Linked DNA regions of Homo sapiens: region 2 is linked to region 1. The links come from fine-mapping of genetic effects on gene expression. A gene starts in region 1. The other region holds a variant in brackets. All regions are shown on one strand. Distances are between the middles of the regions.

Region 1 (3,020 bases):
CACCACAACCTCTGCCTCCCAGGTTCAAGCGACTCTCCTGCCTCAGCCTCCCAAGTAGCTGAGATTACAGGCATGCGCCACCACGCCCTGCTAATTTTGTATTTTTAGTAGAGACGGGGTTTCTCCATGTTGGTCAGGCTGGTCTCAAACTCCCGACCTCAGGTGATCCACCCGCCTCGGCCTCCCAAAGTGCTGGGATTACAGAGGTGAGCCACTGTGCCCGGCCGAGTGCAAAATATTTTATTAGTCATCTTTTTTTTTGTAAGAGTCAGGGTCTGGCTGGCTGGGCGAGGTGGGTCATGCCTCTAATGCCAGCATTTTGGGAGACCGATGCAGGAGGATAACCTGAGCCTAGGAGTTTGAGACCAGCCTGGGCAACATGGCCAAAACCCATACTTAAAAAAAAAAAAAAAGCTGGGTGTGGTGGCGCGCACCTGCAGTTCCAGCTACTCAGGAGCCTAAGGTTGGAGGATCCTTAGAGCCTGGGAAGTCAAGGCTGCAGTAAGCCATAATTGCACCACTGCACTCCAGCATGGGTGACAGAGCAAGACCCTGTCTCAAAAAAGAAAGATGTTTTGCACTGTGTTTCTATAGGACAGTGCTAATCTAGGCCATGCAGTATTTGCACTGACGTTACTCTCAGCGCACAGGGGTGGGAGGATCTGGAAGGTTTATAATTTATGACTTCATTTCCACCAACTCTCTGTAGAACCTTGGGCAAGTCATACCACCCTCTGAGCCTCAGTTTTCTCACATGTGTAATGCGGTTATATCAGTATCTACATCATAAAGTTTTGGGGATAAATGAAATACTACACGTGAAGTACTCAGTTCTGGGCTAAGTACTACCACATACGAGGTAGTCCACACAGGTTAGGTGCCACCTTGACTTACTAGGTGAATTCCTTTTCCCTCTATAAAAAGGGACGGTACCTACCCAGCCTTCCTTTGAAATTTTAAAAGTAGCTGACATCGCCAAAATGACCATCTCTGGAGCCCACCACCCACCGCCTCTCCTAGGGCAAGAGAGAATACCAGAAGGGCAGAGGGTTCTGTAACCCAGAGACGGGGAAGTCCAAGGTCACACAGCCCGCTCGAAGTGAGGCTAGATAAAACTCAAAACAGGGCGGTGCTTCTGACCTTGAGATAATCAATTTTACCCCTCTGGTCAACCAGACGCCATTGATGGAGCCAGGGTGGAGGTGGGAACTGAGTCCCATGCACCTTTTGCGGCTCCGTCGCCACACTCAAGATGACGACACATTGAGCCCTGTTCTACAGTTAGACACATTCAAGATGGCGGTACACACTCCGGTTCCGGTTCCGGTGGCTCAGCTCCCCCCGCCCACCCGGGCCCGGACACGCTGAGCACACTGGAAGGAGTCATGGCGGATGGTCAGGTGGCGGAACTGCTGCTCCGGCGGCTGGAGGCGTCTGATGGCGGCCTGGACAGCGCCGAGTTGGCGGCTGAGCTGGGCATGGAGCACCAGGCGGTGGTGGGCGCCGTGAAGAGCCTTCAGGCGCTGGGCGAGGTGAGCCGGGCCCGTGATGCCGGACCGCCTTGCCCTTGCACCTACAGTCCCCTTGCCACGGGCGCTCTACGTCCAAGCCAAATTCCCTCAGGCCTAGTTTGGGGTAGCTGTATATGTGTCCACTCCGGGATGTGCGGGCGGGAAGTGGGACGAGTGAGGGCCCAGACGCACGGATGTTCCTCATGCAATAAACGTTTATTGAGGCACGGTCAGCGTGGGTAGAGGGTACGATGATGGACGAGGAAGTCGCGGTTGCTGCCCTCACGCAGGTTGCGACGTAATAGGAAGGTGCTTCAAGAACCAGAGTGATGGGGGAAAACAGGGGACCCAGCTGTGACAGCTGACCCAGCCTTGGGGGTCAGGGAGAGCGGCCTGGTGCAGGTGACGGCTGAGTCTGTTCTCTGTTGAGGAAAGTGATAGCACTTTAGAGATCAGTGGCCGGGATCTTGGGGGATGGCAGGCGGCAAGGGAGACCAGCATAGCTGTAATTGCAAAGCCTCTTAGGTCTTTACCTCATGAGGGAACTGGGAAGCGATAGCAGGAGCTAGAGCCGGTCAGATGAGTGTGCTATCCACATCACCTTTGGGAAGAATTGGCATGGACAGGACTGGAGGTGAAGGGATGAAAGAAGAAGCTGGCACTTCCCCAAGCTGGAGGGCATGATGTCTGGCTATGGGAAGGAAGCTTGGGGGAGGTGGGGAAGGCGTGGGATTCAGGACAAGGCAGGGGGCGCACAGATGAAGTCCAGCCTTCTGACTTGGGCAAGTGGACAGTGACAGAGTCACAGGCGTAGGATGCTGAGGGGCCCGTGGGCCACCCAGAAGGCTAGATCCATGGGGCCAGGATCTGGGCTGTTTATCCGTAGAGCTCATGTTCTGTGCCCCACTTTGGTCTCAGCTTGTTTGTCCAATCCATTCCATAATCCTGGCTGATGGCCATGTTATTCCCATTTTGCAGATGTGACAACTGATGGTCAGTAACATAATCAGTGTGAATAGAAGAGGCCGATGAGCCCAGATTTGAAATTAGGCACTCAGGCTGCAGAGCCCATAGTCCTCAATGCAGAGGAGAGATGGCAGCTGTGTTGTGTGGGGTGACAGTGCCTTGACCAATATGATCTGACATTTGTATACGTCACAGAGGGTTAAATAATATAAGGAGGTGAGGTTCAATCTAATGACAGTAATAGCCATAAAAATAATTATAGTAATTAGAATTTATGCCGGGTGCAGTGGTCACACCTGTAATCCCAGCACTTTGGGAGACCAAGGCGGGTGGATCACGAGGTCAGGAGTTCAAGACCAGCCTGGCCAAGATGATGAAACCCTGTCTCTACTAAAAATACAAAAAAAAATTAGCCAGGCGTGTTGGTGGGCACCCGTAATCCCAGCTACTTGGGAGGCTGAGGCAGAGAATTGTTTGAATCGGGAGGTGGAGGTTGCAGTGAGCCGAGATCGCACTCCAGCCTGGGCGACAGAGCGAGACTCC
Region 2 (2,500 bases), 24 kb after region 1:
GTAACATAGCAAGACCTCCATCTATACAGAAAAATTAAACAAAATTTAGCCAGGAGTAGTGGTACCCGCCTGTAGTCCTAGATATTCAGGAGGCAGAGACGAGAGGATCACTTGAGCCTGGGGGAGTTCAAAGTTGCAGTAATTGTACTGATGTACTCCAGCTTGGCAATGTAGCAAACCCTGCCTTCAAAAGAAAAAAAAAGGTCAGGCCGGGTGCGGTGGCTCACGCCTGTAATCCCAGCACTTTGGGAGGCCGAGACGGGCGGATCATGAGGTCAGCAGATTGAGACCATCCTGGCTAACATGGTGAAACCCCGCCTCTACTAAAAATACAAAAAATTAGCCAGGTGTGGTGGCGGGCGCCTGTAGTCCCAGCTACTCGGGAGGCTGAGGCAGGAGAATGGCATGAACCCGGGAGGCAGAGCTTGCAGTGAGCCGAGATTGTGCCACTGCACTCCAGCCTGGGGGACAGAGCGAGACTCCATCTCAAAAAAAATATATATATATAAAAGGTCAGGCGTGGTGGCTCATGCCTATAATCCCAGCACTTTGGGAGGCCGAAGCAGGCGGATCACTTGAGGTCAGGAGTTTGAGACCAGCCTGGCCAACATGGTGAGACCCTGTCTCTACTAAAAATACAAAAATTAGCCGGGCGTGGTGGTGTGTGCCTGTAGTCCCAGCTACTCAGGAGGCTGGGGCACGAGAATGACTCGAGCCCAGGAGGTGGAGGTGGCAGTGAGCTGAGATTGCACCACTCCAGCCTGAGCGACACTCCAGCCTGTCACTCCAGCCTGAGCGACCGAGTGAGAGTCTGTCTCAAAAACAAAATAATAATAACAAAATTTTTTACAAAAGAAAATTTCTTACAAAAGAAAAAAAAATTTTTTAACATAAAATTTATTACAAAATTTTTTACAAAAATAAATAAGTAAATAAAATAAAGGTCCCTATGGCCTAGTTGAGAAGTGAAAGTTATAGAGCTGCTAATGATGGTAGATTTAGAGACATTAAGAAGGTAGGGCCGGGCATGGTGGCTCACGCCTGTAATCCCAGCACTTTGGGAGGCTGAGGCAGGTAGATCACGAGGTCAGGAGTTGGAGACCAGCCTGGCCAAGATGTTGAAACCCCGTCTCTACTAAAAATACAAAAATTAGCTGGGTGTGGTGGCAGGTGCCTGTAATCCCAGCTACTTGGGAGGCCGAGGCAAGAGAATCGCTTGAAACCGGGAGTTGGAGGTTGCAGTGACCTGAGAT[C/T]GCTCCACTGCACTCTAGCTTGGGCAACAAAGCAAGACTCTGTCTCAAAAACAAATAAATAAAAAGGCTGGGCACAGTGGTTCATGCCTGTAATCCCAGCACTTTGAGAGGCCGAGGAGGGCGGATCACCTGAGGTCGGGAGTTTGAGACCAGCCTGACCAACATGGAGAAACTCCGTCTCTACTAAAAATACAAAATTCGCCAAGTGTGGTGGTACATGCCTGTAATCCCAGCTATTCGGGAGGCTGAGGCAAGAGAATCGCTTGAACCCGGGAGGCGGAGGTTGCAGTGAGCCGAGATCGCGCCATTGCACTCCAGCCTGGGCAATAAGAGTGAAACTCCATCTGAAAAAAAAATTAATTAAAAATAAAAATAAAAAAACAAAGAAGGTAGAAATGAGGGGATTTTGAGACAGGATGCAGAGGGACAGAGAGAAGCTGGACTCTAGGCTTGCTGCTAAGTTTTGAGCTTGGGAACCAGGTGGCTTTTTATGTCATTAACTAAGGGAATGGAAGATGAAATCGGGTTGCCTGGGAGATGACGCTTTTGGTTGTGCAAATGTGGAGTTTCAGATGCCTTTGAGACAGCCATGTGGGGAGGCTGGGAGGTTTCATATATTCTTGGGTCCTCAGGAGAGAGGCATGGGCTGGGATGATAGAATTTAGATGATAGAATCCAAAGTGTGGATGGTAATGGATAGTACTCGCAAGTCATTTACTTATTAGCAGCACATTTATTGCTTCTCTCATGAGGGGTAAGTACTGAAGATACAAAGATGAAGGATGGCCCTGGCCCTTCAGCAGACTACAGTGGGAGGCCAAGGTGTAAACAGTGAAACCGTAGGTGCTGTGTGCACCTAATCCAGCCAAGGAACACTTTCTGGAGGAGACAGGACGTAGGTGGGAAAGGGGACTGTTCAGGGATCCCATGCTACGGGAATGAATGCCTTTGGAGAATAATAGCCTGTGCATTGTGGAATGGTGGCTGGGATATTAGCTGCAGGGGCCAGCAGGGAGGAGGCATGGAGGCCTCACTGCAGAACAAGTGTGTGATTGACGGTGTCTGGCAAGAAGACAGCAGAGGCCCAAGCACAGACCTCTGGGATACCACATGTCGGGAGTAGCAGGGAAGGGTGGTCAGCAGTGCTGGCTGCTGCCAAGAGGTCAGCATGTCACTCTGAGATGTCTATCGGTCTAACCACAAGGTCATGGTGACTGTGGTAGGAGCTGTTTCATTTGAGAACCGGG

What was found. PIP is the estimated chance that this variant, and not a neighbour inherited with it, causes the effect.
Region 2: its variant is the best candidate, but not a certain one, in a credible set for the expression of FARSA in lung (TOPMed, PIP 0.63).

What each region holds. Positions count from the first base shown.
Region 1 is chr19:12,932,062-12,935,081 of GRCh38, reverse strand. FARSA (phenylalanyl-tRNA synthetase subunit alpha) reads left to right here and starts at 1,371. Exons shown (of 13, transcript NM_004461.3): 1 at 1,371-1,532. The coding sequence starts at 1,386. FARSA-AS1 (FARSA antisense RNA 1) reads right to left here. Exons shown (of 3, transcript NR_149078.1): 2 at 2,045-2,112; 3 at 1,786-1,933. RefSeq lists a silencer at 31-136 and enhancers at 1,173-1,467, 1,189-1,688, 1,699-1,768.
Region 2 is chr19:12,908,684-12,911,183 of GRCh38, reverse strand. All of the region lies in intron 2 of SYCE2 (synaptonemal complex central element protein 2), which reads left to right. Among named protein-coding and RNA genes, the nearest start is that of SYCE2, 9.4 kb to the left of the region's middle. RefSeq lists a silencer at 239-407 and a cis regulatory region at 2,193-2,500. The variant C/T (reference allele first, on the strand shown) is at 1,254.